Regions from separate parts of the Homo sapiens genome. Here region 2 is linked to region 1. The links come from fine-mapping of genetic effects on gene expression. Tissue or cell type: monocytes. Region 1 holds a variant in brackets; the other region holds the start of a gene. All regions are shown on one strand. Distances are between the middles of the regions.

The links. PIP is the estimated chance that this variant, and not a neighbour inherited with it, causes the effect.
Region 2: it holds the start of DPYSL2, and the variant in region 1 is fine-mapped to the expression of DPYSL2 in monocytes (TOPMed, PIP 0.98).

Annotation. Positions count from the first base shown.
Region 1 is chr8:26,568,048-26,574,444 of GRCh38, forward strand. All of the region lies in intron 1 of DPYSL2 (dihydropyrimidinase like 2), which reads left to right. Among named protein-coding and RNA genes, the nearest start is that of DPYSL2, 57 kb to the left of the region's middle. The variant T/C (reference allele first, on the strand shown) is at 3,493.
Region 2 is chr8:26,511,296-26,517,692 of GRCh38, forward strand. It overlaps DPYSL2 (dihydropyrimidinase like 2), which reads left to right and starts at 2,736. Exons shown (of 14, transcript NM_001197293.3): 1 at 2,736-3,384. The coding sequence starts at 3,031. It overlaps PNMA2 (PNMA family member 2), which reads right to left and starts at 2,577. Exons shown (of 3, transcript NM_007257.6): 1 at 2,521-2,577. RefSeq lists enhancers at 738-1,032, 819-1,691.

The sequences.
Region 1 (6,397 bases):
TTTAGTTTAAAGCCCACAAATGAGACTGATGGTTACTAACAGCACAACTGCATTCGGCTGTTTATTCTTTCAATGATTTCCTTATCTGCTTGATAGGAAGATAGGAAGAATTCTGTCTGGTTCCTCAAGACAGTGGAAGTGCCCAGAAGCTGGAGGGAGACCAGTCGTTGGGTTGATGACACTGTGGGGGTGGAGAGCCCCCAGCCCAAGCCTAGGTAGAGGGGCACAGTTTGCCTGGAGCTGGTAAAGCATTGGTAAAGCATCACGTGCCATTCACCTGTGACCTCTCTTTCTACAGCGTTGTACTACAAGAGGGGGACTGTGTATGGGGAACTTGTAAACATCTCCTGATCCCCCTTGGTCTCCTGAGAGCTGGCACACAAGGTCAGTAATAAATTCTCACTCCTTGAAAACAAACAGGGTGGGGGAGTAAGGAGGGCAGAAAGAGGACCAATTTATTTACAGGAAAGGTCAGAATTTTGTTAAATCTTTACAATATCCAAATGGACTACTTTCAAGCATTCACAGACTAAGCTAATAAATTGCCCCAAAGTGTCCTCTAGGGAACCGAAATGGACAAATGGCCAAGAACCATGGCGTGTTTTTGGATGAGTGAGCAGTTTTCAGTACATTGATCATGGCGGATTCTTTTAAGAGATGAAAACTCCTGAAATGTTATTTACACTTTCAGAGTTCATAGTTACCCCTTTTCCTTGGCCGTTTTCAGAATCGACACAGATTCTGAATCAAGGAGGGCCCAGTTGAGGGAGATCTGCGGTATTTTCTGGCTGTGGTGAGTACAAGCCTGAAGTGCGGGATTGAAAAGAGGAACCCGGCTGCAGTTATCATGATTGGACCTCCAGGCACAGCTGAGCTTTGTGAATGTGAGGCTTGATGCTTCCCAAGGACAGATCCCAGTAGAAAAGGAATCTGCTCGCTCTGCCTTGGATCATTAGAACCTAGGCCATGAGACCTCATCCAGTCAGGTGAATCCTCACCATCTGGTCTTTTAAAAGCCTGGGGTGAAGTCTAGGCGTGAGGGCCCCCAACTGTAATCCCACTGCTTTGGGAGGCCGAGACAGGAGGATTGCTTGAGCCCAAGAGTTCCAGACCAGCTTGGGCAACATAGCAAGACCCTGTCTACACAAAAGATAAAAAGACTTAGCCAGGCATGGTGATGCATGCCTGTAGTCCCAGTTATGTGGGAGGCTGAGGCAGATCGCTTGAGCCTAGGAGTTTGAGGCTGCAGTGAGCTATGCTCATGCCACGGCACTCTAGCCTGGGTGACAGGGCAAGACCCTATCTCCAAAAAAAAAACAAAAACAAAAACAAAAAAAAACCAAAGAAAAACCCAAAGCCTGGGATGAATCAGGATTAGAGAATGGCAGGTGCATATCTGGGAGGCAACAGGTGGAAGATGAAGCCTCGGTCACCTGGGCTGAAGAACAGGTATCTTTAGAAAGGTTCTCCTGTTCATTTGTCATTTAACTCTTGTTTGTTGAGTGTTGTGCGGTCACTGTAAGGTGGAGTGGAGGACTAGGTGGTTTAGGGGCTTTGCAATTGAGAAGTAGAGACAGACTGGAAATACTCAAGTAAACAAATGCACAAAAATACTTCCAAATTATAATTGTTGCTATTAAAGAGATAGTGCTGAGACAAGGAAGAGTAGGAGTACATGGGCTGGCATCAGGAGGGAGGTCATGGAGGGCCTCCCTGAAGCAGGGATGCATGGGCAAGAAGGAGAGATGGGAGAAGAGAGAACAGCAGCCACAAAGGGCCATTGCAGGGAAAGGAAGGACATCAGTGTGCTATGGCATGAGAGAGCTTGGGGACGTAACACAGGATGAAGCTGGAAAGGAATAGAAGGGTAAGATCAGTCGGGCGCGGTGGCTCACACCTGTAATCTGAGCACTTTAGGAGGATCAGTTGAGGCCAGGAGTTTGAGACCAACATGGGTAACATAGTGAGACTCTTGTCTCTACTAAAAATAAAAGTAAAAAATTTAAAAAAGAAGGGCAAGATCACACGCAGCAGACTTGATAAACGGTTTGCATTTTATTTATGCAAGCAGCCTGGCTTGGTGTCTGAAATTCTACTAACCAGGGTCTTCTCTTTTTAGCAGAGGAGTAGCACACTGAGCATTTATCATTCATTTAAACCTTTATGTTCGTCTGTCATGTTTCCTATGAGGGGAGGGCCAGAGCCACTGAGTGAAACTGAGTTACACTGGGTTATGAGGAAAGAAAGAGATGGAGAATTGATTTCGGGAGAAGGGGAAACATCTAAGGAATGTGGACTGGGGACAGTGGAAGGAGTAAAGAAAGACAGCCGATCACCTGTGCCTACCTCTTGCACAAGGTGGGTCCCAGTTTCTACTAAACAAGTACCTTACCATTAAAAGAACTAGCCTTGGCCAGGCGCGGGGGCTCATGCCTGTAATCCCAACACTGGGAGGCTGAGGTGGGCAGATCACGAGGTCAGGAGTTCGAGACCAGCCTGGCCAACATAGTGAAACCCCATCTCTACTAAAAATACAAAAATTAGCCAGGTGTGGTGGGCACCTGTAATCCCAGCTACTTGAGAGGCTGAGGCATGAGAATCACTTGAACCCAGGAGGCAGAGGTTGCAGTGAGTTGAGATCACGCCACTGCACTCCAGTCTGGACAACAGAGTGAGACTCAGTCTTAGAAAAGGAAAAAAAAAAAAAAAAAAAAAAAGAACTAGCCCCTTGGGCTTTGGGGTCACACAGACCCAAATTAGAATCTGGGCCTGGAACAAGAGGTTTCTTTGTGCTTTTCTCTCCTCGTCTATAAAATGAGGATCTGAAGATTTACCCAGTAGGATTTTGGAGAAGATTAAAGCAGATGTATTTAAAGCACTCAGTGCTATGCTTAGAGCATGGTAGGTGCTCAATACATGTTAATTTCCTCCTCACTGACAACATAACAGTATTTTAGAAGATTGTACTGTTTCCAGAAGGCAGACAAGTGGAATGAGAGGGATAATATTTACCACTCTTTCATAATGTTCCCCCTGGACAAAGAGCAGACCAGTGATGCCCTGTGGTGAGTGGACCCCTCACTAGGTAGGGAGTGAGCCCTTCCTCCTAGTCCATGTTTTCCTCCTTCTATAAATAGAGGGTGGAGTGGGCTGGATCTGTCGCTAAGTGTCCAGAAGTAGACTAGTTTAAAAACCTTCCTGGACCTTACCTCCGGATATTCTGTTCAGGATGTCTGAGCTGGGGCCCAGGGTGATTCTGATGGAGGGGAGTACTTGGGCACACCAACGGAAACAAGTGATCTCCAAGGCCCTGCCCTGGCTTGGAGACCAGCACGCAGGGGACCACGTGCACACTCTTTGTTCGCCACCAGAGGGCAGGCCTGAGGCACGATGGCTGAGCTAGGTGCCCTTTGTCCCCATCAGGGATAGAAAGACCCCAGGGAACATCTGTAGCCACCCAGAGAATGAGGTGCAGGGTGGGCATTGCAGGAG[T/C]TCTTCAGGAGGTGTGTGCGCTAACTGGGGATAAGAGAAAGCCCGAGTCGACTAGATTCTGTGAAGTGCATGCTTCCTCTGTGCCCTCTTGTCCAGCAGGATTTGGACAGATGAGCTTCTTGTCTTCCTGCAGGGAGGATGTGTCCTCAGAATCCTAGCAGAGCCCCCATGCTGGCCGGCAGTCTGTACAGTTCTAGCCAAAGCAGCGTCTGTTTCGGAGGGCCAGTCACTGCTGACCCTCATTTGTCACCACTGTCACTGCTGCTAAAAGGATGCAGCCACAGGGGAAGGCAGTGGGCAGGTTCCGATCCAATCTGCAGTCTCTGACCCTTCAGAGCTACACACACAAAGAAAACGATCGTCATTGCCTGATTCCATCTGCAGTGAAGAAGGCATCACTTCCAGCTCAAGTGTCCTAGTCAATGCCCTTTGTTTTGGCAAAGAAGGATTCCAGTACCTTCTCTTTACTGCCGCATTCATTTCAACCTTCTCTGCAGGCTGTGTTAGAGGCCACAGCCCTTGGCATCCAATTGCAGCACTCTGGGCATTGGGGATTTTCTTTGCCACCTCTGGGCTCTGTTTTGTCAGCAGTTTCTGCTCTGGAGTTCCCCTACTCTGTGAAATTCTGAACATTGCACTAACGCAGAGACCCAGGGCGCCACAGAAGCAGAAATGGCTACTCTAGCTCCCCAAAGGGGAACATGAAACCAAGAGCAGCAGTGGGCTAGTCAGGGAGGGAACACGTTCCGGGCAGATGCTGAGGAACTGAGAGCAGCACAGCCGCCCGAGGCACTGGAGTTATGTCTGCATCTCCCCAGCCCCACTTCCCTGCAGTTTGGATGATGCAAACATGTGCAAAGGGCTGGCTGGGTGCCTCCACTCATACCTCCCTCCCTGCATTCAGTCCTGCTTGAGCCCCCAGCCTTGTCAGGCCCTCTGTAAGGATAAGGAATGAGTAAGACTTTTTTGTTTGTTTTTGAGAAGGAATCTCGCCCTTTCACCCAAGCTGGAGTGCAGTGACGCAATCTCGGCTCACTGCAACCTCCGTTTCCCAGGTTCAAGTGATTTTCCAGCCTCAGCCTCCTGAGTAGCTGGGATTACAGGCGTCCCCTACCACGCCCAGCTAGTTTTTGTATTTTTAGTAGAGATGGGGTTTCTCCATGTTGGCCAGGATGGTCTCGAACTCCTGATCTCAGGTGATCCGCCCACTTCAGCCTCCCAGGTGTTGGGATTACAGGCATGAGCTACTGCGCCTGGTCAGGAATGAGTAAGACTTTTGAAAGAGTTTTTCTTCCCTGTGAGCTCAAACCTTGAATGGAAGAAAAATCACACTCACCTAGTTATGGTGTCGGTGAGGATTGTATTGTGTAGGTGGTTTACTGCGATGAATGGGATCACACAGGGATGTACGAAGAATAATGGGAGGATGGAGTAAAGGACAGTTTCAGAAATTGAGAAAAAATTACTAGAGACACCTTGTATGACTTCGACCTTCATTTTAGGATTGGGTGCTGTCTCCGTGTTCTACCAGGCTTGCTGATACACAGCAGTTTTGTTAGTGGAGGCGGAGCTTAAAATCTAGGCAGCTACAGCCCCGCAGAGAATAATAAGCTGTTAATAATAACATTAGGTCTTCCTGGAGTTTCAGGGGCTTGGAGAAGGGGAGGCTGCCAAGAAGGAAGGCCCGGCAAAGTGATATTCCTGACTGGGTGTGGTGGCTCACGCCTGTAATCCCAGAACTTTGGGAGGCCGAGGCAGGCAGATCCTGAGGTCAGGAGTTTGAGACCAGCCTGGCCAATATGGTGAAACCCCCATCTCTACTAATAATACAAAAAGTACCTGGGCGTGGCCGGGCGCGGTGGCTCACGCCTGTAATCCCAGCACTTTGGGGGGCTGAGGTGGGTGGATCACGAGGTCAGGAGATCGAGACCATCCTGGCAAACACGGTGAAACCCTGTCTCTACTAAAAAATACAAAAAATTAGCTGGGCGTGGTGGTAGGCACCTGTAGTCCCAGCTACTCAGAGGCTGAGGCAGGAGAATGGCATGAACCCAGAAGGCGGAGCTTGCAGTGAGCCGAGATTGCGCCACTGCACTACAGCCTGGGGCAACAGAGCAAGACTGTCTCAAAAAAAAAAAAAAAAAAAAATTACCTGGGCGTGGTGGTGGGCACCTGTAATCCCAGCTACTCGGGAGGCTGAGGCAGGAGAATCACTTGAACCTGGGAGGCAGAGGTTGCAGTGAGCAAAGATCATGCAACTGCACTCCAGCCTGGGCGACAGAGTGAGACTCCACCTCAAAAAAAAAAAAAAAAAAAAAGTGATAGTCCTAAGGGAAAGGCTTGCTTGCATTGGGGATTTTTTTTTTTTTTTGACATTAAAACTCACCTTGGTGGAAGAACCTTTGTCCTCGTCATAGCAATGATGGCACTTATTTATGCACAAAATGTTAAGGGCACCTGCCAGAGACAAGGCAGTGTGCTGGTAGCTGGGAGAAGAGGGGGCTTTTTGCTTCTAGGAGTCAAGGCCTGATGGAAGAAATGTGCAAGTCATTATAGAGTGATGGTGTTATAGCAGAGCTGAACACAGGAAGGAGTGCTTAAGGCTGTGGGGGTAGGATGGGGAAAACTTCATAGACATGGTAACATTTCAGTTGTTTCAGAGGGAAGGAGGGGAAAAGAACGGCTTAGGGCAAGATGTAGATTAGGGAGGGCACACTGTTTTCAGGGGCAGTGAGAAGTTTGCTCTGACACTGTGTGCGTGCACCCATTGAGCATGGGGACAGAGTAGGTGTCCAGGGAGGGGAGTTGAAGCTGCGGAAAAGACAGGGATCAGACTCTGATACAGCACCTGGTTAAAATGCATTCTTCCCACTCATGGATCTGCTCAGGCAGATCCTCCCTTCCT
Region 2 (6,397 bases), 57 kb before region 1:
GTAACTCTATCAGCAGTGCTCCTGCTGTGGGAAGATCTCCTGAGTCTTCTGGGAAGTGCTGAAGGCACCAGGGGTGCCAGAGAGCCAGGAGGGCAAAATGCTGCTTCACCCCTGTGCCCAGGAGCCCCAGAGACCTGAGACTGCTGACTTCTCCATGCCTGACTTTTCCTTTCTAAAATGTGGGGACTGTGGGGGAGGGCCAGGTGCAGTGGCTTACACCTGTAAACCCAGCACTTTGGGAGGCCAAAGCGGGAGGATCACTTGAGCCCAGGAGTTTGAGACCAGCAACATAGTGCGACCCTGTCTCTACAAAAAGGAAAAATAAAAAAATTAGCTGGGCGTGTGGCACTCGCCTGTAGTCCCAACTACTTGGGAGGCTGAGGAGGGAGGACTGCTTGAGCCGAGTGGGTCAAGGCTACAGTGAGTTGCGTTTGCACCATTGCATTCCAGCCTGGGTGACAGTGTGAGACTCTGTCTGAAAACAAAAACAAAAATAAAAAAACCAGCTGGGGGCAACCTTCCTCCCCACTGGGATATTTAGAGGAAACAGGGAATGTAAAAAGACACTGCCCAGGAAAAAGCATCTCTATGGTCTACAGAATGACTGCTATGCTGAAGTTAGGCTATCTTCAGATGACTCTTCCTCCCAGTGTGACCTGCAGTGTTACCTTCAAATAAAAACATGGCAAGAAACACCCTTGATATACAATAGGGCCATGGATGGAAATATCTGGATACGGTAGAAATAGAAGAACCTTGTATTTTCTCACATAAAGGGGGTCACAGGACAAGCTGGAAAAGAAGCCAGACTTTGAGGTGGAAGACTCCCACTGGAATTGCTGGATCATTTAACTAAATACCCAACCTTGGCTATGCGCCCCAAGCTCTCTAAATCTGTTTCCTAACCTGGAAAGCAGTGCTGATAAGGCACGCATCTCACAGTGGGGCTGTGAGTAGGAAATGATGTAATTCAGTTGGAAGCGCTTTTTTCAAATGCTTTATTCAAATGCAAAGCACATCTGCCGCTAAGTCCAAAATGCCCCCTCCGGTTCTCTCAGCCCCTCCACTCCTATATTCTTCTTCCCCAGTCTGTTTCTCATCCGGAGACGCCTTTCCACCTATCAAGATGGGCTGATCTTCAAATTGCGACTGATTGTCCAGCAGATGTAACTATATTCACCAAACTATCTCTCACAATTGGACTGTGGGGGTGGTTGGTAACCGCATTTAATCCTGGGCTGACAATGGGACTGGATCCCTGGTTACACGGCCCTACGCGGTGGCCCTGCGGTAAACGGCCTCTCAGCCCAAACCCACCCTGGTTACTGAGCATGCCCAGAACTCCCTCCCGGGCCACCAAAGGAGGGGCACCATTTCTGCAGGATTTTGCCACTGTGGAAAGAGAGGCGGAGCTGTCATCGCGCAGAGGCAGGGACTGATACGCGGAAAGGACGTGGAGATGGGAATAAGCAATGAAGGACCAGCATTGACCGTGTTAGGCACACAAATCTAATTGCCCCCTGGTTACTTACCAACCCGGTGGCCGTGGCTCAGCTACTGCACACACACACCAAGTTCCTACACACCTTTCCCCTGCTTGGCCCCACACAATTCATGGCACTCACAGCCCACATCCTACCTCCTACTCCGCACCAGATGCGCACCCGCACTTACTCCCCAAACACGTGGCATCTGGTAACCCGGGAAACGCTGCGACTGTGGCGCAGTGCGCAACAGGGGCGGGGGAACCAGGCGGGGCTCTGGGGCGCAGGGGAAAGCTGGAGATTTGGGAAGGGGGTTTCAGTTTGTTTTTTCTCTCTTTTTTTTTTTTTTTTTTTTTTTTTGGTGGAGGAAGCAGAATAAACCAAATCGCGACACGTTCCTGCGCCCTTCTTGGCGCAGTGGCGCAGACACGGTCCATGGCGCCTTGCGCAATAGAGTCGGTCTGCACCCCGTCTTTAAGTCGTGGCCCTGGGCTGGAATTCCCGACTGCACTCTTTGCTACACCCCCATAGACCGCAGACCTGCGTCTCTCTCTATATTCCTCTCCCATCTGCTACGCCCCTCTGAATTTCTTCCCGCCATGTTGTGTGCCCCCCCCCCACTCCCCCGTCACCCCAACCACACCAAAGTGGATGCACGAAGCGGGAACCTTCTCGTTTCAGTCTCTGCTCCCTGCAGCCTGCCAAGGCGAGTGGACAAACTGAAGCTGGGGTGTCCAGCGTCTTGGCTGCCCCCCTCCTGTCCACCCTGCCTGTGCTATCCTTGCTCATCTTCAGTGCCATCCCGCTTCCCACACCCTGAGTAGCCTGGCGCCCGGCTTGTCCCCTTTTCCCATCCATCAGCTCACACCCAGGGTAACGGGGCGGGACCCCTATCCACAGTGCGCCCTCGCCCCCGGCCCACCTCCGCCATGCGGCGGGGCAGAGGCGCCTGGGCCAGGCAGGTGGAGGAGAGGGGCACTGGGGCTGGGGGCTGCGTCCTCCGGTCCTCACTCCGCGTGCCCTGCCCGATACTTACCCAGGCGCGGAGAGCGGTCAGCGGGCCCTCCGCTCCGCATCCATTAGCTGGTGGTCTGGCCGCTTCACTTCCGGAGCGCGGGGCTAGGGGCGGTGCCGCCCTCCCCTCTCTCTCTCCTTCCCTCCCCTCCAGCCCTCCCCTGAGCACCGCTCCCCTCCCCGGCGCCGCGCCCCGCCCGCGCCTCCCTCCTCCCAGCGCTGCCGGGAACTGGCAGCCTTTCGGCTCCCGCAGCCGCAGCGGACGCCCTCCCAGATCCAACTTTGCCGCTTCCCCGAGCTCGCGCTGTAGCCGCGGGGGGCGTGGGCAGGGAGGGGAGAAGCGGGGTCAGGGGGAGGGACCGGGAGGGTGGGTCGCCGGCTCGCCAGCCCTCCTTCCTTTCTGTGCACCTTGCGGTGGGCGGCGAACGGCAGCCGCGGCAGCAGCTAGGGGGCTTGTGCACACAGCGAGGGAGACTTAGGGACTGGCAGACGGACGGACGGACGGCGAGGACCCTACCCGAGCCCCCGAGCCATGGCCGAGAGAAAGCAATCCGGGAAGGCGGCAGAGGACGAAGAGGTCCCTGCTTTTTTTAAAAACCTGGGCTCCGGCAGCCCCAAGCCCCGGCAGAAATTCTGTGGCATGTTCTGCCCGGTGGAAGGGTCCTCGGAGAACAAGACCATCGACTTCGACTCGCTGTCGGTGGGCCGGGGCTCGGGGCAGGTGGTGGCTCAGCAGCGGGACGTCGCCCACTTGGGCCCGGACCCGCAGCCGCCGTACTCGCGGCAGGGCCGGCGCGCCGGCGGAGAGCCATCTGTTGAATCGGGCCGGAAGGTGGAGATCCGGAGGGCCTCGGGCAAAGAAGCCCTGCAGAACATCAACGACCAGGTCGGTGTGGGGGTTGGGGGTGGAGACGGAGGACGGGGCGCGGGGATCGCCCCTCCCTCGCCCCTGAGCCCGGCGCGCCCGCCTTCATGCCCCGCCCTGGACCTCGCCTCCCGCATCTGCACGCGCACCCCGCCCTACCCGCCCCTTCTCCGCGCAGGGTGCGGCGAGGCTCGGGCTGGGCGGTGGGCGGCCGTGCGCCCACAAAGGCTGCCCGCGTCTCCTTGAGCTTGAGAGGTGGGGCGTGGGCATAGGGAATGGGCTGATCCCCTGCTGGGGCGGGCGGTGGTCGTCTGGGAGGGGGTTGGCCGCGGTTCCATTCTTCTGAAACCCTCCCGGGCGGCTTCCGATTGCAGCTGCGGCTGGGTGCCCCACCCTTTTTTTGAGCGGCTCAGAGCGTGCGGTGGAGGCTTTGCGTGAAGGCCCGCGGCTCCCCGGTGGTCGGGAGGGGCGGGGGTTCGGACGGCCGCTCCCTACAGCCTCCGCCCGCGCCTTCTGCGCTCACGTCCCGAGCTCCGAGGCCAGGACCATGGTCAGCGCCCCCCGGACCCCCTCCGAGCACCGCACCGCCCTTGACTCCTGCTCGCAGCGTGAGAAGAGCCAGGAAGGCTGTGGAGTCACCCGAGGAAACCGAGACGCTCCTAAATAGCCTATGTGGGGAACAAAGTTCCAATAAGTGTCTCAGCCGGGGCTTCACAGAGCGCTCCCCAAACCGCTATGTGGGAGGCGCTTTAGGAAGCGGGGAACTAAGTGGATTATGTTCAAAGGGTCAAAAAGACAAGAAAAGGGGGAAAACCCCTCGCACTCGAAATAGACTGTCGAAGAAGACTAAACCCCCTTTTATTGTGTTAATGGGGGAAACAAAGGCCAATTTGGTCACGCTTGATTTTAGAAAATGTTTGTCACTTTCTGACAAATATGAACAGTGAGCATTTTCAGCGCAGTAATAATCTCACACCACAATTCTTTCTTTATCTGAGTGATCCTTACACTAGTGTAATTCTTTTCCACAGCCTTAATTTCTTAACTGATAATTTACAATGCAAAATGTTTTAACACGTTTTCCGTTTCTCTCCCATGCCTGCTGGTAAAAATAATAAGTCAATCAATGAATGATTGTTGATTGAATACCTATTGTGCGCCTTGCCTTGTAGGGCAGAGGGAAGGTTAGTTATAGAAAGTGCAAGAGGTTTCTTCTTCTCAGAGGGCTTCCAGAGTAGTTGGGAGTGGTCTATACATATTCAGCGAGGGATTCCACAAGCATTTACATTTGTGTACTTACAGTGACAGCCTTTGAGAACAATTCAGAATTGGTGATGATGGTTGGGGCATGATTTGACTGTTTGCTGATGTGACATAGAGTTTTGCAGCTTTTGACTTTTGTAGGGTCAAGTCTAGGAAAAACAAGGCATTTGCTGTCATTTGTAAAAGGTGACACAACTAATAATTTATATCCAACCCCAGCCCTGCCCTCTAATTTATTCATATAAGGGAGTGTCTCATATCCATATTTCACTATGAGTCAACCAGAAGAAACTAAATCCAAAAAACTTGCTTTGTTCCAAGTGATCAGACAATTGAAGTAAAAGTTTCTAATAATGTAACTTATACTGAAAGCTGAGTGAGTGTGTGTGAAACACTTCCCTGTGTGAGTACATTGAGTGAGGGCCAAAATCATATAGCATCTTGGTTGAGTGAGTAGCCTCATGCATGGCGAGTTGTGCTGGTGATTGTGATGTCCTAGAGAAAGCAGAAAAACAACTGGAGAATAAAGAAGAAATCATGTAAAAAGTGGCAGATCAGAGGATAGGGGTTGAAAGTGGCCCACCCCTATCATGAATTAGAACTCAAGTTTGAAAGGCATAGTTTTATCGGGTTGAATAACACTTCTTTTTTCTTGGCCATTTAGAAGCTTAGATATATGAAATTCTAAATTGTAAAACTAAGGCACGCAGAGGGGGAGATTTGAAGAGAAAATACTCAAACAAACTGCAAGGGAGTTTTAGATTGCAATTCACATTGATTTCAGTTGCCCAGTTATTAGTAACAGAGGGCGATTCTAGCTTGGCCTTTCTGCAGCACCTTCCCCTGAATTTTCATGTTTAATCTTGCCTTATCATATAAGGCCTACTCAATGAGATTTTGTCATTCACGACTAAGAGCATTTACCTGGATCAGTACTTGCAATGTTTCAATATTTCATGTCTTTAGAAAAGGGGAAAGGCTGTGGCTATACATGTGTTTATATTTATAACAATGTGACTTCCGAAAAGCTCAACTGGCCCACCATTTTGACTGAGTTGACTTGTCATTAGTTGGTTTTCAACGAATGAGTTGGGTGAGTGCCAGCATCTCTGTGCATTCTAATTGGAAGCCCTGACGCAGAGAAAGGTGGGGGAGATTGAGAATGGGTGGATCCTGGGACCCTGACTCACACCATCCCTCCTCTCTTGCAGCTTTATTTATGTGTTACTAATGTATGGTCAGATGTGGCTTTGCTCATCTGTTGCACTAAGAGGCCTGCTGTTCCCCTAACAAGGCTTTGGGAAGGGAGAGAATAGGCTTCCTTGACCCACATGCCACATGGCTCATGGAAGATGAGAGATGTTGGACATGTGCATTTGCAGGAACTAAATGAAATTATATTCAGAGTATGAGCCAGACAGCACCAGAAAGCGATGGGTGTGGCTTGACTCGGCATGTCAGATTTTGGCGGAGGAAAAGAGCTGGCATAGTGGTTGTGAATGAGGAAAGCCTCTATCTTGTTACTCTCTTTTTCCTATAAGTCCACTTTGGGCTTCAGTGAGGTTACATTGATCACCACTGTGAAAGACTCTGAGCCTCTTGGAAGAGAGAGAAGAAAGGCATCTCTGTTGGCCCAATCCCCCCTTGTCAGTGCCCAGGGGTCCTTCAGCCTCTTCCCTTCCTCCTAGGAACTTCCTCCATTCCACTCCAGACACAGCGTAGCCAGAACCAGTGGCTCCACCAGCAATACTGGACCATAAGAATGCTTTTC